3 linked regions of the Homo sapiens genome follow. The protein of the gene in region 1 interacts with the protein of each later gene in a pairwise test. Each region holds a gene or a part of one and is shown on either strand. Other genes may lie near its edges.

Region 1 (8,614 bases):
AACAGGCTTATGCTGAAGAGTACCTGACCTTCTTTATAGGCCTTACAATCTATTTTTATCTTGAAAATATTTGGCATTTCCTCCATCCCTAAGGGTTTGAGATTATCTTAGATTGTCAAGTTACTTAAAAGATGCTATTCCAAGGCTGGGCATGGTAGCTCACACCTGTAATCCCAGCACTTTGGGAGGCCAAGGCAGGCGGATCACTTGAGCCCAGGAATTTGAGACTGGTCTGGGCAACATGGTGCAACCTTGTCTCTATCTCTCTCTCTACACACACACACACACACACACAAATTAGCTGGGCGTGGTGGCGTGTGCTTACAGTCACACACACACACAAAAGATGCTATTCCAAACAGGGAAGGTAAATAAGTTTTGAAAGTCTTTAATTTCACCCCTCCAGGAACTCTCGATAATACTTATTTTAATTTTTATTGTTTAGAGACAGGGTCTCACTGCCTTGCTCAGACTGGACTTAAACTCCTGGGTTCAAGTGATCCTCCCACATCAGCCTCCCAAGTAGCTGGGACTACAGGCGTGTGCCACCACACCCAGCCATTCTGGATGATACTTTGTAAACTTTTAAAACAAATACCTCTGGAGGTCTTCAGGTCCTAATACCTGCATAACCTGCTCATTCACATCTTCATTAATCAGCCTACAGAGTTTTCCAACAGTGCTTACTAGCACACACAATGAGGATGAACTATCTGCAAAAGAGAAATAAAAGGATATTTTAACAGAGAATTTCCAAAATTACATACATCAAACATTTTATGCTTCAGTTATCCTCAATTTTTCACTTAAACATTTTTTAATCTACTTTTTGTTAATTTATTAAAAATTCTTAAATGGGGGCCCAAAATGACAAATTAGGTCATCACCTAATTCTAAGAGTTCTTGGAGGTTTCTCACAGCATTGTTCATTTCTCCAAGCCTAGTATAAACTTCATTCATTCGGGGATAGACTCCATTTAAAGAAGGCACATCAAATAACTTTTGGAAGTGAGAAACAATAGCTTGCAAAGTTTGAAAGTGTGGCATATTGCTGTCCTGTCCAAAAAAGAGGTAAAAAAGAAAGAGTTCATTATCTTAAAATAATCCCAAATAAAAACTTTTAAAAGACAAATAGAACTCTAGTAGAACAAATATCAATATCCACAATTTATCAGTTTTTGAGATAAGAAACATTAGAAGGTGACCGTTCATGTAGGTATTACCTTTTCCTTATTTTCAACTTCTTCCAGCATAGTATCTACTATAAACAACAAATCTTCAACTTTGATACCTTCATTTTCATCCTGCTTCTTCAAATTAAGCCAAGGTACCAGTTCTGCAGATAGTGTTTTCAAGGACTTATACAAATCCTTTATAACAAAAGAAACTATATGGTATTATTGATTTAAATAATTTCTATAGTAACATAATAGAACATAATTAGTAAAATTATAAGTTTTATATATTATATGTTTTATAAAATTAATAAAACATAATTACACAGGTTAAAAAAATATATATGTAACCATCATTTTTTTTAAATAAAAATACTACTACCAATTTAGAACAAGTCAGTTAAAATTAGGTTTCTCCAGGTAAACACAGGCTTTACAGAAAACATTATATATTGATTATTCTGAATCTGAGTGCTCTAAGTAATTTTATGTTATTTATTATTGTTCCATAATATTTCATTATTTTGAATTGTTGATACACAAAGAATAAACTTGCCCTTGAATTTTGGTTTTGAATATGTTATATAACAGCTTTATTGAGATGTAATTCATATACCATAAAATTTACCCTAAGTATACAATTCAGTAGTTTTAATATTTTCACACATGTACAAACATCAGCACTATCCAATTTCAGAACATATTCATTACTCCAAAAAGAAATCTCAGACCCACTAAGAGTCCTTCCTTCCCCATTTTCCCTTCCCTGCAGCTCCTAGGGTTAATCTCTAAACTATTTTCTGTTTCTATGGATTTGCCTATTCTAGGCATTTTGCATAAAGGGAATTATACAATAAGTAGTCTTTTATGAATGACGTCTCTCACTTAGCATAATGTTTTTAAGATTTATCCATGTTATAACATGTATCTCCAGGCAAGTTTTTAATGTGAAAGGTTCCCTAAATGTATTCTACATTATAATACTCCACTTAGTTTTCTTGGCCTAGTTGTGGTGCCCTAATTGATTTTAAACTGTGCACAATGGGCAAGGCTACTGAAAGTTTAGAGCTCTAGACTGATCAATCGACAAATATTTAGAATTCCTAGTCCGAAAATCTGAAATGCTCCAAAATCTGAAACTCTGAGCAACAACAGGACACTCAAAAGAAATGCTCATTGGAGCATTCTGAATTTCGGATTTTTGGATCAGTGATGCTCAAATGGCATATATTCTGCAAATACTCCAAAATCTGAAAAAATTCTTAATCAAAATACTTCTAGGCCCAAGCACTGTGGATAAGGGATACTCAATCCATATGTGTATGGCACAGCGCTTGGTCCTTTAGAACAACGCTGTCCAAAAGAAATGTAATGTGAGCCACAGTAATTTTAAGTTGTCTAGGGCCATAGTATGGAAAGTGAAAAGAAACATGTGATATTAACTGTACTAGTATATTTTATTTAACCCAATATATCCAAAATATTATCATTTCAATATAAAATCAATTATTTTAATTTTTCCCATACAAAGTCTTCTAAATCCAGTGTATATTTTACACTTATAACACATCTGAATTAGGACTAGCCACCTTTCAAGTGATCAATAACCACATGCAGCTAGAGGCTACCATACTAGACAGCACAGCTCTAGAGAACAGAAAGAAGTACAAGAAGTTCCTCCTTTTTCTAACTTATTTTAGTACTTCACTTGACACTCTCCACTTAAGGCTCAGACTTCACATATTGGTATCTTTAACCTTTCAATTGGTAGGAAGGCAGTTACTATTTTAGTAATTCATAGCAATAAATTCCATGTCAAATGAATGTTTTACAATCAATGCCACTAGAATTTGAAAAAAAAAAAAGTCAGCAAGTAACAGCATAATGATACCTTTATTAACCAATGCTCCAGGAACAAGGCACATTTATAAAGTAATCTATGGTAAAAAGCATACCCAATCTAATACATTTTTGCTTCAGAATAAAAGAGTATTACAAAGCTAAGAAGAAAAGATGTTCTGGTCTCCTAAGCAGTGACAGGATGGTTGTAGCACAGTCCATCAAGTAAGCTCTGAAAAATATAAGAGGGTCTCCTAGGTTCTTTACATTGCCCAGTTGTGGAGATGTAGAAGTACTACCATGAGCCAGCCTACCGTGTACGTCTGGCCTCTGAAGCACTGGAGAATAGCAAAGCAAAAGTATTCAAGAGTGTACTGGGTTGGGGAAAGCTACAACATCTGTAGTTCACCTTTCTTGGAAAGGCAGGAGGGAAAAGACACAAGGCTGGAGGCAGCTGGCTCCATGTCTTTCCCAGCCTTCTTTTCTTCCAATTTTTAAAACTAGTAAAATACCCATAAAATTCACCATCTTAACAATTTTTAAATGTAAGTTCAGTGTTAATATGTTCATAATGTTGTGCAACCAACATCACCATCCATCTCCATAATTCTTTTCATCTTGTAACACTGAAACTTTATACCCATTAAACAATAACTTCCCATTTCCCTCCTCCCTCTAGCCATCACCACTCTACTTTGTCTCTATGATTTTCACTAAGTATCTCATACAAGTGGAATCATATAAGTGGAATCTTCTTGTGACTGACTTATTTCACTTAGCATAATGTCCTCATAATGTTCACCCATGTTGCAAGGGTCAGAATTTCTTTCCTTTTAATGGCTGAATAATATTGCAATATATGTATATACCACATTTTGCTTATCCATTCATCCCTCAAACCTATCTTACTCTTTAAAGCCAAATTTAACCTGAGGGAAAAAACTAATCTGGGAAGATGGTTGTCCCAAACTTAGAGGTTGCTACATATCAAATAACCTTTGATATGAGGCCTCAGAGAATCTCATGTAGTTTCTTAATTTGGACCCTGAAACTGTAGTATTAATATCTGAAGCACTGCTCAAAATCCATGAGTTACTCCAATGGCAGAAGTAACTAATTCTTAATAATTTCTTCTTGGGTGTCCTCAGAATATTCTAATTATAAAGCGAATTCCTTGCCTCCTCCTCCTCCTCAGAAAACCATACAATAGCAAGAACTCACCACCATGGCAAAGCCCTTCTTGGGGGCTACAATCAGAGTGTTCTCTTTCTCCTCCAGACTCTAGAGCACAAGTTATCTGCATCATTCACTCAGAACTTCAACCGGTAATCTATTTTTATGTCACTCATTTCCTTTAACGATATAAATGATTACATTTTGTTTCATATTTTTTAGTATATTTTGTCTAATTAGTCTGAATCTTGTGTTCATCCCATAATGGCTTAGCATGATAAACGATCAATAACTATCCATTAGTGTGATTCTTCCCTTTGTCTTCTTCCTCTTCTAGTCTTTTCTTCTAGGAAGGCTAGGGCTTTTTCTAGTCCATCCCTTCTGAGATGAAGAAAGGTGGAGTCAGCACTGTTTCCTCCTACTGGGAGAACCCTCTGACAGGCAGTGATTGAGGAAATACCATGATTTACACTATTACTAATTATTTTACACTCTTCTGAGATACAGACTGGAGGAACTCCGGTCTATAAAGTAAGTATATTAATCTAGCACTGTCACTCAATCAAAATGTTTATGTATTGTATAGCTCTGTCTGAGCCCTATATAAAAAGGGAAGTCGAAATTTAAAAAAAATTAACATCACCACCCCCAATTTTGTTGTCTTGGAATATAATATTCTGCTTCATTCCTTTTAACAAATATTAATTGAGCACTCATTCATCAGGAGGATCTTGGGGACATATCAGAACAAATAAAAACACTGTCTTCATGGAGCTTATACATTCTTAACAGATATCTTCTGCATCATTTGTACTTCATGTAATAAGACTTATGTTGCAAACACTGTTATTGAATCACATTTTCATTAACAGGCATATGCTATGTATTATATTAGTTACTAATAAATCTAAAGTGTAAAGGGCAAAGAAGTTAAATACTACTGATTTCAACTATTTACCTTTCAGCAAACTAGTTAACAAAAACTGAAAAAACCTGAAGCTATGCAATAAATACACAATAACTCTATAAATAAAATGTGGTCTTCCATGAAGAGATAGGATAGGGAAGGGTAGCGTTGGCTGCTAGCTTACTATCTGTTCTAGAGAATAAGCAGAAATGGAGATAAGCTCAGTTCTGAGAGACAGAAAATAAAGTGTGAAGAGAGAGAAAATATCCCCAATTATAATAAAATGAAGGATAAGACATTATATCTGAAGAGGGATAAGGGCCAGGAAAATCGCAGCATGGAGATATGAAAAGGAGGCAGATGAAGGTAGAACAGGGAAGGGCCTAGAAGTACAAAGTGGATCCACTATAGATTTTCAATAAGGAAACTAACCCCAAAATTTCTTGTTTGGTAGAATCTTAGAGGAGGTAAAGCTTACAGTAATGACAACATCAAATAGACAGTACCTAAAATAGATATGTAAGTAGGAAGATTTCGGTTTTAGATAATAAGCTTTTTTAGCTTTAGAGTTAACACACAAACAAAAAAATTAAACCCTATTTAATTTTTAGCCCTGAATTAAGTCCTATTAATAAAGCACATAGAGTCCAATAGATGTTCAAAGCATATAATCATAGTCAACCCCTTACCTTTAAGGATGTCAGTTGATCTGCCCACATTTCTATTACAGGAACAAGATGCTCAAATCCACAATCTTGAACAAGATCTTTATTAAAATTTTGGACTCCCCCTTTGGTCTGTTTATAAATTATTACTGGAGCTCTTGGATTGTGGATAATTGAATTGATGCTACACAGCACCTTTAAAAAAACATAGTGTATATAGTCAAAATATTTATCCTATGCCTACAAAGTTATATATTTTAAAGGAGTGCTTTATGTCTATATATATTATATACACATATTTCATTAAATATACAAAGAAAATTATCATAAGGAATTGGCTCATGCAATTATGAAGACTGACAAGTCCCAAGATCTGCAGTGAGTAAGCGAAGACCCAGAAAAGGTAATGGGTATTTGCAGTCCAAATGCAGGCAGACTGAGACCCCTGCAAGTGCTAATGTTTCAGTTTGAGTCTGAAGGCAAGAAAAAAACCAGTGTCCCATCTTGAAAGCAGTCAGGGAGGAGGAGCTCCCTCTTATTCAGCCTTTTGTTCTACTCAGGGCTTTGAATCATTGGATGAGGCCCACCCCATTAGGAAAGGCAGTCTGATTTACTAAAGTCTACTGATTCGGATGTCAATCTCATCCAGAAGCACCTTCCCAGACACATCCAGAATAATGTTTAACCAAATATCGGGCATCCTATGCCGCAGTAAAGTTGAAACAAAATTAACTATTACAAACACTACCTAGGTTCAAAAATTGTTAGTATTTTGCCATATTTGCTCACTATCTATATTTTTAGGTGAACCATTTGAAGAAACTCTTCACCCTCAAATAATAAAGCATGCATCTTTTAAAAGTAGGCATATTCTCCTACAAACTCACAAGAACATTATCAGACTATTTAAGGAAATTAACAGCAATCCCCAGGCTGAGTGTGGTGGCTCATGCCTGTAATCCCAGCACTTTGGGAGGTTGAGGCAGGAGGATCACTTGAGCCCAGGAATTCAAGGCTGCAGTGAGCTATGATAATGCACTTCAGCCTGGGCAACAGAGCAAGACCCTGTCTCCAAAAATAATATCATTGATGCCTGGATTGAATTTTAGGTATCTTAATATATTAAGATAGTATACTATTTGACTATAACCCTCTCCCCATAAGTGATGGGTTCTACCTTACATATCATCCGAGGAAAAAAAGGGAGACCTCAAAAAGCATGTTTAAAGAGAGAAGAATAAAGCCATTTCCTATTACCACCATCAAGTTCAGCCTATTTAATAAAAAGTTTCACAATATAAAGATAGCATTTTGCTCTTGAATCTTTGTCCCTGGTCATACTTCAAGATATAACTAATAGGCCTCCTGGTAATATGACTTAAGATGTTTATTACTTCAGATGTTTATTTAGAAGCTTTTTAAGTCCAAATTAGTATAATTCAATATTTCACTTCAAATTGATGTATGTATATTTGTTTTATATATTTATTTGACAGAGTCTCACTCTGCAGCCTAAGATGGAGTGCAGTGGTGTGAACGGAGCTCACTGCAGCGTTGAATTCCTGGGCTCAAGTGATCTTCCCATGTCAACCTCTCAAGTGCTAGGACTACAGGCACAAGCCACCATGCCCAGCTAATTAAATTTTTTTTTTTCTAGAGATGTGGTCTCACTATATTGCCCAGGCTGGTCTCAAACTCCTGCCCTCTAGCAATCCTCCTGCCTCGGTCACCCAAAGTGTTAAGATTACAGGCATGAGCCACCATACCCGGCTTGAATTCCCCTTTTAAAGGACAAAGCCTCTCAAATTGAGTCTCAGAAACAAAATGAAATCCAGTTATATACTGGTACAAGAAAGTCTAAAACAAAACAGTTTTCAGAAAGGTGCTTGGTTCCCATTTACAATAGCAATAAAAGTTATAAAATACCTAGGAAATAACAAGGTATTTCCTAACAAGAAATATGCAAGAGCTAAATTTAAAAATACACAACACTTTATTGAAGACTATAAAAGATGACCCTGATGAAAGTACATATTTCTGAATGTGATGATTCAAAAAGGTTAAGGTGTCATTTCTCCAAATATTAATCTATAAAGTCAATTCAATTTTAGTTCATCTCAATGAGATTTATTTTTTAATTTGAAAAACTGTTCATCCAGAAGAATAAATGTGCTAAAAATATAGCCAATAAAAAAAATTTTTTTAATGATAGGATACTTGCCTCAAAGGCTATTAAAACTTTTAACTATAGAAATTAAAATATGGAAATAGTTGAGAAATGCAACAGACTAGAGAATCTAAAAACAAATCTGTGCATATAAATGAATATGATCTATGATAAAATGTTATTTCAATAAAGTAGAGAAAAAAGTAGCGTATTAGAGACTGCAAACACAAATGCCCAGAGAATTCAGGTACGAGTATAAATGAGTGACGTAAGGATGAATAGGGACTGCTAACTATAGAACACATGCTCATATCTGACAAGGGAAAGGCCTAATTCTGCTGTGATAATAACCATGCAGGAATTTGTTGCCAGATCTTCTGACTTTTTAGGAGAAGTTAGAAATAGCAGCCTAGAAAAAATAAAATATCTTAATTTTTAAAAAAATGAATAATCTAAAACTTAAAAATCTTATGTGTACCCAATAAAATGTGAGTGAAAGTCCAGTTCAGTCACTAAACTACCAGGTTTAACTGCTCAGCTATTCAATAAATGATCTATAAAACTAGGAAGGTGAGATTCCCTATATCACACCATATAGAAAATTAAATTTCAGATGAACTAAGGTCTCTAAACAAAAACAAAAGCCATACAAGGACCCTAAGAAAATAGATTTACTTAATAATAATGG
Region 2 (8,435 bases), on another chromosome or scaffold:
TAGTCCCAGCTACTCAGGAGGCTGAGGCAGAGGAATTGCTTGAACCTAGGAGGTGGAGGCTGCAGTGAGCCAAGATGGAGCTACTGCACTCCAGCCTGAGTAACACAGCAAGACTCTCAACAGCAACAACAAAAAAAAGCAAATGTATCTTATTCCTTTTAAGCCAATGAATCAATTAATAACATACTCACTACATACATTGCTTTTTTTCATTTGCCACATCTGAGAGATCATTCCATGTCAGTGCATAGACTTTCCACATTTTTTTTTTACTGTGGCATAGGATGCCACTGTGTAGATGAACCATGATTTATCTGTTAGTCTCCTGCTGATAGACCCTTATGTGGCTTCTACTTCTTTTGCTATGAAAATTAGACATTTTTTTCTTTCAGACAAAAATCCTATGTAACACATAGGATAAAGGGCTGCTAATAACAGCAGCAGCAATTTACTGAACAATTACTATGTGATAAACCCAGAGCAAAAAGGCATCACTTCTGAATTCATTAAACTGAGCCCTATGGGGCAGATACCATTATAACTCCCATTTACACAATATATACAACTAAGGTCCAAAGAAATTAAGATATTTCTCAAGGTCATATAACTTGCAGAAACCAGAGTTGGGATTCAAACCCAAGCCATCAAACTTCAGAGTCTATGCACTTAGGAAATGCATCAAAAATCTGATGTTATGGTGATAGTTTTTTTGTTTGTTTTTGAAACAGTCTTGCTCTGTCACCCAAGCTAGAGTGCAGTGATGCAATCAGAGCTCACTGCAGCCTTGAACTCCTGGGCTCAAGTGATACTCCCACCTCAGCCTACCGAGTACCTGGGATGTGCCACCATGCCTGGCTACTTTTTTTCTCTTGTAGAGACAGCATCTTGCTGTGTTGACCAGGGTGGTTTAGAACTCCTTTTTTTTGAAATAGAGTTTCCCTCTTGTCACCCAGGCTTGAGTGCAATGGCGTAATCTCGGCCCACTGCAACCTCCACCTCCCAGGTTCAAGCAATTCTCCTGCCTCAGCCTCCGGAGTAGCTGGGATTACAGGCACGCACCACCATGCCTGGCTAATTTTTGTATTTTTAGTAGAGACAGGGTTTCACCATGTTGGCCAGGCTAATCTCGAACTTCTTACCTAAGGTGATCTGCCCGCCTCGGCCTCCCAAAGTGCTGGGATTACAGGAGTGAGCCACCACGCCTGGTTGGTTTAGAACCCTTGGCCGCAAGCAATCCTCTTACCTCGGCCTCCCAAAGTGCTGGAATTATAGGTGTGAGCCACTGTACCCTGCCTTGAATGAATTTTTAAATCTTTTTCCCATTAAGAAAAAGAAGATATAGAAAATTACCTTTTCGCTTTGGCTGGAAGGAGGATATCAGCTCGAGGGAAGGCAGTGGACGGTAATTGGCCTGTATCGCGGGTAACGGGAGGTCTGGCAACACTGGCAACACATCAGGCACCTGCAGGGGACAGACCCATGGGTGGAGAGTCAGTGAGTAGAAGCACAGCTCTCTTTCCTACAGTCTATTCCCGGGAGCATTAACTGGACATCTTGCACAGGAAGATCCAGGTTGGAGGGGGCCACAGTCATGTCTGACACCACCTCAGTCAGGAAATAAATACAGATGAGCCCATCACAAGAGAATAATGCAGAAAATTCTTATTTGCGGTACCATATACCCTGACAACCAGTGAAGCCCAGAGGAAATTACTGCACACTGAAATTCAACATGCCCCCCAAAAGCAAGCTAAGGAAAACAGTGGCAGGGCAATCCTCTGAGCTCTGCAGGGCCAGGTGCTCTGGGTGGGAAGCCACCAAGGGGCTGAAGGGGTTACCTTTCTCAGCTTGGCTAAATCAGCTCCAGCCGGCTTCTCTGACTTGGTTTTGTTCACCTTGGGTAATTTCTGAACTGAGTCCAAGTTTTTACCAGTGCTTTTAGAGTCATTTTTTTTAAGTCCTTTATCTCCAAGTGCCGTGGCTGAAGTTTTCACAATCTTTTTCTTTTTCTTCCGGGGCTGGTCATAGCTGAGGTAGGATTCAAAAGACATGGTTGGCTGCTCGAATTCATCCTCCATATCTGTCTCCTCAACTTTAGGGAGGGAGCCCAGTGACTTTCTATCCAAATTAGTTTTGACTTTCCCTTCTGGAGTCTTTAGGTTGTTAGAACCCTTCTCTTTTACCTTGGGCAACAGGTCTCCTGCTCCTTTTCCTGTGTCAAAGCTGTCCAGACCTTGCTTGCTTTTGTCCAATTTGGCTTTCTCTGGGTCTCTGTGCTTTGGCTTTTTCAGGTGGTTGTCTGAAGCGGCCTCTGAGGGAGGCAAACACTTCTTCTTCAGGCTGCTGCCCTCTCTGTCCTTCTCTTTCTTTACGCCACTAGAGGGCGGTTTCTCCCTTGCATTGTCCCCTGAGGGTGGCCTTCGGTTCTCCTCTTTGGAGAGGGCCTTGTGTGATTTCTCTCTGCTCACCACAGAGGCCTTCTCATCACTCTTGGCATCCACGGGGCGTTTGTCCTTGTGGGAAGATTTGTGCTCCTTGTTTTGACTCACAACCCCTTTCCCATGGGGTTCACCCAGGTGTCGTTCTTGGCTGGCCCCGAGTCTGTCCTGAAAGGCATTGCTGTGGCCTTTCCCAGGCTTCTGGTGTGAAACAATGGGCTCCTGGTCCTCCTCCAGGGATCTGTAGTGGTCGACGTACATCTGATGAGGACTGGTACAAGATGGAGGGGATTGAACATGGCCATAATCAGAAGACTCAGGGTCTGAAGAGTAAGTTGGTGACATTCTGTGACACCTCTTTCTCTCATCTCTCCTCTCATGACCGTGAGACACTTTGTGAGGTCTCTCGAGCTCCGAGAGTTTCCTATGTTTCTTCTGCCTGTGGTCAGGGCTATAGGATCGGCTCCCCGTGGCTTTCCAGGTTTCTTGGTAGTCCCCCTCCATCTCCTCCTCCTTCTGCAGGGCATCCCGAGGGCGCTTTCGGGAATTGCTCTTCTCAAAGTCCTGTTCATCAGGCTCAGCATTTCTAAAATAAAAGAAAAAGCAGACAAAGTAGGTCTAAATCTTGCTTCTTGAGGGACAAAGTCACAGAATCTGAACTCACCAAAGAAGTGAAGATGCAGAGTTAGAAACAACAAGGTCTTAAGAAGAAGATAAGTAGGTTATGCTTAAAGATACTCAAATCTTAAAACTGGGAAAACCCAAATGAGAAATGGTGAGTTTAACCACAAGATGCAAAGATCAAATATCTCATATACATGAAAATGTGGAGATTTATTAAAACATGGGGACATGTTTAATTTGTTATATAAAATGGGGGCTGCTCACTATTTATCTAGTTCACAACTTAAAAAAATGCCATTTAAGGAGCAGTTAGAAAGAAACATACCAGGCCAGCCGCGGTGGCTCACGCCTGTAATCCCAGCACTTTGGGAGGCCGAGGCGGGCAGATCACGAGGTCAGGAGATCAAAACCATCCTATCCTGGCTAATACGGCGAAACCCTGTCTCTACTAAAAATACAAAAAATTAGCCGGGCGTGGTGGCGGGTGCCTGTGGTCCCAGCTACTCAGGAGGCTGAGGCAGGAGAATGGCGTGAACCTGGGAGGCGGAGCTTGCAGTGAGCCGAGATCACGCCACTGCACTCCAGCCTGGGCAACAGAGCGAGACTCTGTCTCAAAAAAAAAAAAAAAAAAAAAAAGAAACGTACCAAAATGTTCATAACGTTTGTCTTTGCGTGATAGAAATAGGAAATTTTGATTTCTATTTTTAATATTTTCTAATATTCTACAATGATCATGGATTATTTTTTATAATTGAGGCAAAACAATTTCAGAAGGCAAAAGAGAAATAATAAAGAAAACCTTTTCTATCTGTAAATTTAACCATGAAATTGAACAAACCTAAAGAGAAATGTTCTTACCGTTCCACAGGAACCAGCTTCTTCCACTGGGCCACTAGGTCCCTGGCAAAGCTTCCAACATGCTCGTGTTTTCGCAAGCTATTTACTGTTTTCCCAACCCCAGTCTCCTAAAATTTGACAAAGTAATTGTTAGAGGGGTCTGGAACTAGGCTAACGTTTTTCTAAAGAAATAAGGCTTTCTACTTTGAGAAACTCAACAAGCAATACTTCCTTCCTACAACATACCCTGCAAATCTTAACACTAAATTACTTTGTGTCTATGCCCCAAATCTCTAATGACACACAGTAGCAAAGCGTACCAAGTTCAGAACTTTAATAACAAGAGTGATTAGGGCAGGTGTTAGGCACTAAGATAAGAGCTTTGCATACAGTTCTGAATCAGTCTTTACAATAACCCTGTGAAGCAGGAATCAGACCCATTTTACATAGGAACAGCCTAAAGTCATAGAACTCAGATTTGAATCTGGGACTAATTGATGCCAAAGTCAATGTTCTTTTAATTCTAATTTTGAAATAAAGTCATTTAACAATATTCACCACTTTAACTAAAGTACATAATTCAGTGGTTTCCAGAACATTCACAATATTATATAACCATTATAACCATCTAATTCCAGAACATTTACATTACCCTAAAAAGAAATCCTGTTCCTCCCAATTCTCCTAGCCCCTGGCAACCACTAATCTACTTTCTGTCTATGGATTTGCCTATTCTGGACATTTCATATAAATGGAATCAGACAATATATGGCCTTTTGTGTCTGGTTTCTTTCACTTCCAAAGCCCATACTTGTAACCTTATTCTACACACTCTCCAGTGAGAAGGGAATGGGATATCATTATATAATATTTAAAGTCACACAGTTCTTACCGCAAGAATGTCTACTGTAATAGGCAGGGTGGAGAGTTTCTTCAAATATTTCAATAGCTGCAGAGAAGAAAACATTAATTTCAATAGTCAAATTCACTTTAACAAGAATATCTGATTATTAAGTGCTTAGTGCTAACCATTTACAGTAATGAGTATAAGTATTATGCCTATTTACAGTAGTAAGTAATATCCCTATTTTACAAGTATGAAAATAGGCTCATAAAAGTTATGTTTCTTGTCCCAAGATGCAAGTGGGGCAAGATTCACTCAGGTCTGTGGCTTTAGATTCCCTGCTTTCAACCACTGTGCTACACCAAGGGGAAATAAGATGTAGAGAAGAGAATCAAAACTTACCAACTCTGATAAAAGCCATCAACAACTATCATTTTTGCCCTAGTTTTGATAGAATTTATGAGAAAGGTACCAATTTTAGGGGAATTACCCATGGACCTGGCACAGAGGAAGTAAAAGGAAGAAAAGGCCTCTACAGGAAAAGACCATCATGTTTCCAGAAGGGCCACAGTGTTTAACAGAATTGTTTTCTTCTACATAAGTGTAAAGCCAAGAGTAATTTCAAGTTGCCAGAATCAGAGCTTGGATGTTAACGGTGGACACAAAATGCCTGGGTAGATTAGAAAAGTGATCTGGGTTTGATCACATTTCCTTCCTATAGTTCCTAAAACTAGGTCAAAATCAGTACAGCAGAGCTGTTAAGATGGAGTTCTGGAGTCAGAGACAGGCTTGACAATCTGGCTTTGTCACTCGATGAGTGATCTTGAATAAGTCAAAAACCTCCCCAAACTTCAGTTACTTCATCTGCAAAATAGGAACTTGGTCCTGTCTCTACTTCACAAACTATGAGGATTCAGAGACAAACCATGTGCAGTCCTTAGTCATAGTGTCTAGAACACTATGAAAGCTCACTAAATACTTATCATTTCATTCATCGACTGACAGCTTTCAGCGTTCTGCCCTTGATCTTCAACCAGATATTCCTCAGCCAATTCCTACTTGCTCTAACAAAAGTTATGACTGGCCAAACCTTTCTCTAGGAAATGTCTACGTGTATCTAAACATACTTACCATACAAGGAGTGCTTCAAAATACAAGTAGTTTAAAATAGATAACTGTGGTTACCTTTGCATTTAAATATTATATAACAAGATCTGCTTTTACCATGTGTGGCCCAGACTATAATTGGTATGCCATATTGCTATTAGGTGGAGTAACAAGTCTGTTTTTCTGGTCATTCTACTTCAATCATTACTTAACATGGTCACCAGACAGAGCAATTGGATCACAAGTGATAATCTTGAGATCAAGTAAGAGGCCAAGTGGCATATCTAGGGAGTCTCACCTTCATAGATGAGTGAAAATTATCCCCCACTTCAAATCCTATCACCACCATCATCCAACTCAGGAAAAATTTTGTGTTTCTTGCCACCCAAGCTATGGGTGCAAAGACTAATGCCAATTCCTTCACTTAAAGGAAAATTTTAAATCACTGAAAAGGTCAAAAACAAGTGGTTCTCTCATAATGCCATTCCTTGGAAGGGGTAGGTTGGGAATATTCACATACCATCTATTGTGTGTCAGCTACTACACTAAGCTCTTACACGTTACCTCATTTCATTCCCACTAACCAACTCTATAAAGTGGATGTTATTCTCCCCATTTGACAGATATTGCAACTGAACCCAATCAGGTTAGGTAACTTGCTTAACAAGCTGGAAAGTCAAATGTGTCTACTACAGTTAAGTAAAGCCAGGAGAAGCATCCAACATCAGAACACTGTCCTTAGGAAATGAAAATAGAGCGGCAGCACATATACTTCTTAGCATACTTGCAAGAAAGCAGAAAAACTCCTCCTGTGATGTCATTAGACAGTTCAGAACCCACATAGTAAAGGAGGTCACCAAGGGAACAAAGGTGTCCCAGGACCTCTACAAAGCCAACATATAAGGATGAGGCTGGAAGTCACTGTGGGTGTGTTTATCTCAAAGCCTAGCACTAACTGGAAGAACAAATCCTGTCTTTCTGCTTTACTTTGGGTTATTAGGGGTGATTTAAAAGCAGACAAAACTAAAACCCTCAAGATTTTCAGACTCATTTAGTCTAACACAAGAGAAAAAAGGACTTCACAACCCCTCTATTTTCAGTAAATTTCAAGAAAGAACAAAGCAATAACAAGGCAAAGGCACATTGGGCATCCTCAGGTGGATCGAAACTTGCTGTTATCAAACAAGATACCAACTATAGAGCTTGTAAGAACTGGTAACAGGCAACTGAGAAATATCAAACATTTGCAAGGTACATGTTGAGGCATCTCAGTTGTCCCCTGTACAATCCTTCAACCCAAAAAAGCAAAAAATATTTTTAATGTCACCTGCCATCAAAATGTTCTTGGTAGCTTTCACAGTGAAAATGTAACACAGGACGAGGATCCTTTTTTTTTTTTTTTTTTTTTTTGGAGATGGAGTTTTGCTCTTGTTGTCCAGGCTGGAGTGCAATGGTGCCATCTCGGCTCACTGCAACCTCCGCCTCCTGGGTTCAAGAGATTCTCCTGTCTCAGCCTCCCGAGTAGCTGGGATTACAGGCACCACCACCATGACCAACTAATTTTTTTATTTTTAGTAGAGATGGGGTTTCATCATGTTGGCCAGGCTGGTCTCGAACTCTTGACCTCAGATGATCCGCCCCTCTTGGCCTCCCAAAGTGCTGTGATTACAAGCGTGAGCCACTGCGCCCGGCCAACTGTGTGTGTGTGTTTTTTTTGTTTTTTTTTTTTTGAGACGGAGTTTCGCTCTTGTTGCCCAGGCTGGAGTGCAATGGCGCGATCTCAGCTCGCTGCAACCTCTGCCTCCCGGGTTCGAGTGTTCTCCTGCCTCAGCCTCCCGAGCAGCTGGGATTACAGGCGCCTGCCACCACACCTGGCTAATTTTCGTACTTTTAGTAGAGAAGGGGTTTCACCATGTTGGCCAGGCTGGTCTCGAACTCCTGATCTCAGGTGATCTACTCACCTCGGCCTCCCAAAGTGCTGGGATTACAGGTGTGAGGCACTGCACTCGGCCTAAGGACAGGTAATTTTTATCAGCCATGAACTATGAAACATAAAAACAGAAACCAAGTGGTCCTAGGCTGCTGATACCTTCTCCCTTAAGTGAGCCAAGATAACAGATGAAAAAGTGAAAACAGAGTTACAGCAATGTCTAGTACCAAAAAATCCATGAACACAGGTGTGGAATCAAACCCTTGGCTAATAATGGTTTGAAAGCAAGATCTGGTTGTAAATTCAACAGGGCTATATAATCATCTTGCAATTTCACATACAACCTGTAGGAGCTTGTTAGGTTACCAGAAGGTTGAGAGGAACAAGGCCAACATGACAGCTTGCAATTTTCCCTCTGCAGTTAACTCATATCTGAATGCCGACTATTATGCCCTTTGCAAAAATGATCTCCCAACATTTTCTCATCTTCATGATGCTCACTTCACAATGCAAAGCTAGAAGTTCAGGGTGATTTTCTATCTAGAAAGAGCCCAAATCCTCAAAAAAAAAAAAAAATCATTAATAGTTCAACTAGGTTGAGGTGGAATAAGCCTTTTCCTAATTTTGTATTTCATGCAAATCAACTAATAGAAAA
Region 3 (4,411 bases), on another chromosome or scaffold:
AGGTAATGATACTCTGCTCTAAGAGCAAGTTTTGCTATATTTGACATCTGCTGGAGAGATGTATTTTATCTTATCATAGGTCTGTGAAAACACCCAAGTGTTTCTTTTTTCATAGAGACAGGGTCTCACTATGTTGCCCAGGCTGGTCTCAAACTCCTGGCCTTAAGCCATCCTCTCACTTCAACTTCTTGAATTACTGGTGTGAGCCACCATGCCCAGCCCCAAGAGTTTCAACCAAGAATTAAGAGAGTAGCCCATACCAGCATTAAAAAGTAGACAGTTCATTAAAAAAAAAAATGGACATGTGAAAACCATGTCACATAGGAGAATGTCCTGATTCTTAGGAGATGTATGCTCAAGTATTTAGAAGTGGTGATATAACACCTCACCTGAAAATGTTTCGGCAGACAGAATAAAGTACAGTTGACCTTTGAACAATGCGGGCTTGAACTGTGTGGGTCCACTTTCACGTGGATTTTTTCAACCAAATAAGGATAGAAAATACTGCATTTGTAAGATGCAAAACCCACATATATAGAAGGCTGATTTTCATATACGCAGGTTCTGCAGGGGTGACCTTGGGACTTGAATATGGTGCAGATTTTGGTATGTGTGTATCTTGGAACCAATCTCCCTGTGTATACTGGGGGATGGCTGTATATTTAAATGTGTTTGTAAACAATTGGTGAATCCAGATGAAGAATATAGTGTCCAAAATATGTATTGTTTCAGTTTTTAAAAAATTAAACTTAAATGTTCAAACTAAAAAGTGGGTAACTTTTTCCAGAAACTTGGAATTTACAAACTGGTTGAAACAATGAAATAGATGGCCCCTAATATACTAGGAGCCCTTCCTAGATTCAAACACTCCCAAATCAAGATTCCAACATCTGCCAACTGATTTCTCAAAGCTATTATTTATTCTGTACAAGGTTCCACTGTACATTAGACATTCTTCTACTCTTGCTTACACAGTAAACAAGTGTACACTTGCCCTTGGGCTCAGGTTCACAGGTCTTCTCTGGAGAAGGGTGTCAGGCCAGTAAAACTCAGGGTGTCTTTCTCTGATGCCTCCTCCTAGGAGCCTGGAATGTGCCAGGCTCCACGGGGCACAAGCCGGGCCCAGCTGTGTGGGTGAACAGCTTTACTCTCCAGGACAGCACAGAGTTTTATCCAACTATGTAGGGCAAAATTGAGCCCACAGGAAAGAACCATACAACTGAGGCAAGATGTCCCCAAATACCCAGGCTCCAGCTCCCAGGGCAGGACTGGAGACCAGCGCTAAGAAGAGCTGAGGGGTGGCCTGGGCATCCCTGAGAAACTCGGTCCAAAGGGCCTATTGTCTAGGAGGCTCTGAGAAGGGGGCGGGGGCAGGAAGGCCAGGGGGAAAGGGATGTTAAGAGAATAAATAAAAGGGAGAGAAGCTCTAGGGACGAGGGGCTTGTGCTATCCTTCAAACAGCTGGGGAGCAGACCAGGGGTGGGCTAGAGGACGTGGGCGGGAAGAACTTGATGCCCTGTCGGAAGGAATCTACCTGCTTTCTTCTTTGCCTCACTGCAATGCACAACGAGCCAGGGCTAAGGGCAGGATCCCTTTCCCAGGCGGGTTTGAACAGAGCACTGGGGAAAAGGGAAGAGGCTGAGGGATATTTCAGGAGGGGCAGTTACCCCCTGGTCCCCAAATGCTATAAGGCACAATTCTTGGAGGCAACTAAATTCCATTCAAAACATTAAAAAAAAAAAAAAAAAACCCAAACCCCCAAAACAGAAACTTGTTTTAGATCCCAGGTCTACTGTGGCTGTGCTTGGGGCCTGGCCAACGCCCACCTAGCACCACGGAGGGCTAGCATTAGAAAGTTGTACTTGGAAAAGCAATAAAAGGACCAGTGCAACGTCCCAGCTATGAAGAGGCCTGAAGGAGAGCACTCCAGTCTGAACACTTTAGTTATGGAAATTAAAAAAAAAAAGTTGGGCTTTTTAAAAACCAAAACCAGCGTTTTCCAAAGATGTCCCTTCGTCTGTCCCCTGGAGTTAGCAGCGTGAAGAGGGCTCTTGGCTCATGGCTCTGGACCGGCGAGCCGTGCGGGTGGAGATGGGCGCCGGCTCCTCCGCGGCGCGGGCGTCCAGGCGGTGATGCTCCCAGCGAGCTCCAGAGGGCGCTGTCCCCTCGGAGGCGCGGGCGCTGCGGCGGGAAGCGGCGCAGCGAGGGTCTTCCCCCCCAAGACACAGTTGTTTCTGACACATAGGAAGACCACAAGTTTACAAATGCAAACGCCGAGGGCACGGGGCGATGCTGGCTCCACGTCCAGGCGATCTTCCCTGCCGGGCCACAGCTCAGGAAAGCCCGGCTCCTTGCTCCAGACCCTGATCAGGCTGCATCCACTCCTGCTCGGCAGCTTCAGGTTTGTTTTTCTCTTGTCAGGTTTGTGTGTTGTTGTTGTTGTTTTGTTTTTGTCTTTTTAAAAAATTTAGGGAGCGGGGCCACCACGGGGAAGGGAGAAGGGACGTGGCTCCTGGCGCTACATTCGGGAGGGCGGGCTGGCCAGTTCGTAGAAGAGCAGGTAGGCGTCGCTGGTGCGCACTTGGCTGGAGGACATGGGAGTGACGCTGCGGAGAGAGCGGGGAGTCAGCCCGGAGCGGGCAGGACCGGGAGACCCCCCGCCGGCTTCTTTCTGTGCCCCCGAGGCCGGCCGGCCTGCCTTTCAGGGAGCCTCCCCACGGGCAGCGGCTTCGTGGCCTTAAACTTTGCCATCCATTCTCGGTGTAAGCCGTGCGGGGGGTGGGAGGGGGGTGGGTTTGGGGGGAGGGTGGAGGAGTGGGGGGAGAGTGGGTGGCTACAGCCAGGGGCTCCGGCCCTGCCCTGGCTCTCACCTGGAGTCGTTGAAAGTGTGCCATTCTCCTGTCCCTGGACTGCGACAGTAGGCTGTATAGTGGCCACCCATGGTGGTTCCGGAGTGATTGGACACAGCGTACAGGTTGTAAACAGCATGGTCTGAGGAGGAGGCAGCCGTCAAGCCCCCGAGGCCCCCCTGCCCCGACTTCCCCCCTCCAACCTCTCCTTCTGGGTCTCTCAGTAGCTGGTGCTGGCAGCTCCCCTTCCTCCTGCCCTCCCTCCGGCCTTGCACACCTGCGTCTTCATTCTGCCCTGCCTACTCAAAGATACTCACTGGTGTTTTCTGAGGCAAATTCTCTTAAGTCCAGGTCTCTTAGGGGGAAGTTCACAAATGTTGTGAGCTTGCTGGTTCGGATCCTGGATTCTGAGAACCGCTTCAGATCTGGCATTGACGTGAGTCAAGGATAGTCAAACCAATGCAGAAGGGCAGACAACAAAAGGAAAGCCTACAAGGTCCGTTTCTTCCGACTGTTCCCCTCACCTATGGGCCCCTTGTCATCAGTCACCCTTGAAAGTCATGTCCCAGCCCTGATGGATCTTAAGGATACGGAGCACCAAGATCTTTGGGAACCTCTGGATGGAGAACTTCTTTATACACCGTTTTCTGCCTCGGCAGCGACAGCATGTCTGAGAGACAAGACAAACAGAAAGAACTTGTGGGGAAGTCAGTGGGCCCCAATCCAGTCACTCCTCAACTGGATCTGCTGGTATCAGCCTCTTCCCAGTAGGTCCCACGGAAATTTGTTCTTGCTATTACCGAAGGGTGACTTACTGGCTTTTCATCTCCATCAAGCACATCCTCTTTGGTGAAGAGCCTCATGCAGTCCATTAATGTCACCTCAGGATAACCTCGCTGGGAAGGGGAAAAAAGCAAAGGTCAGAGGTCAACATGAAAGGACAGGAGAGGGAGTTCAACAAGGCGGGCAACTGGGGTGCATACCTTAGCAATGGGCAGTGAGAGGTCCCAGAAGGGGTCGAAGACCGTAGAACAGTAACCACAATCTGTACACGTCAGCGAGCTCTTTAGCTGCCCAACAAAGAGATCTGGGGAAGAGAAGGCCATGAGATGCTGAAATACAGGAAGTAGAGCATGGTCTTCTGCACAGCAGCTTTTATTTTTTTTTTTGAGATGGAGTTTTGCTCTGTCCCCCAGGCTGAAGTGCAGTGGTGCAATCTCAGCTCACAACAACCTCTGCCTCCTGGGTTCAGTGATTCTCCTGCCTCAGCCTCCCAAGTAGCTGGGATTACAGGTGCCCACCACCATGCCTGGCTAATTTTTGCATTTTTAGTAGAGATGGGGTTTTGCCATGTTGGCCAGGCTGGTCTTGAACTCCTGACCTCAGGTGATCTACCCGCCTTGGCCTCCCAAAGTGTTGGGTTTACAGGCATGAGCCACCATGCCCGGCCTGCACAGCATCTTCTTTCTTGCTGTTCCTGCTTTGCTTTGTTGAACACTAGGCAGAAACAGGCTTCCCCGGGAGAGTGATTCTTAGGGCTTTTCATGCTCCACTCAGGCAAG

What was found. The genes of interacting proteins can lie anywhere in the genome.
Region 2: the proteins of CEP70 (region 1) and ELOA interact in binary tests that used the Homo sapiens proteins (3 or more experiments, as listed by UniProt).
Region 3: the proteins of CEP70 (region 1) and USP2 interact in binary tests that used the Homo sapiens proteins (3 or more experiments, as listed by UniProt).

What each region holds. Positions count from the first base shown.
Region 1 is NC_000003.12:138,499,512-138,508,125, forward strand, and holds part of CEP70 (centrosomal protein of 70 kDa), read right to left. Parts: intron 5,955-8,614; coding exon 5,784-5,954; intron 4,367-5,783; coding exon of another isoform or gene 4,325-4,366; exon of another isoform or gene 1,739-4,324; intron 1,371-1,738; coding exon 1,224-1,370; intron 1,057-1,223; coding exon 888-1,056; intron 714-887; coding exon 599-713; coding exon of another isoform or gene 586-598; exon of another isoform or gene 373-585; intron 1-372.
Region 2 is NC_000001.11:23,745,434-23,753,868, reverse strand, and holds part of ELOA (elongin-A), read right to left. Parts: intron 4,849-8,435; coding exon 4,792-4,848; intron 4,028-4,791; coding exon 3,921-4,027; intron 3,025-3,920; coding exon 1,839-3,024; intron 1,463-1,838; coding exon 1,351-1,462; intron 1-1,350. UniProt on the Homo sapiens protein: SIII, also known as elongin, is a general transcription elongation factor that increases the RNA polymerase II transcription elongation past template-encoded arresting sites.
Region 3 is NC_000011.10:119,354,317-119,358,727, forward strand, and holds the end of USP2 (ubiquitin carboxyl-terminal hydrolase 2), read right to left. Parts: intron 3,937-4,411; coding exon 3,833-3,936; intron 3,746-3,832; coding exon 3,665-3,745; intron 3,520-3,664; coding exon 3,441-3,519; intron 3,275-3,440; coding exon 3,167-3,274; intron 2,992-3,166; coding exon 2,871-2,991; intron 2,607-2,870; coding exon 2,519-2,606; 3' UTR 899-2,518; downstream 1-898. UniProt on the Homo sapiens protein: Hydrolase that deubiquitinates polyubiquitinated target proteins such as MDM2, MDM4 and CCND1. Isoform 1 and isoform 4 possess both ubiquitin-specific peptidase and isopeptidase activities.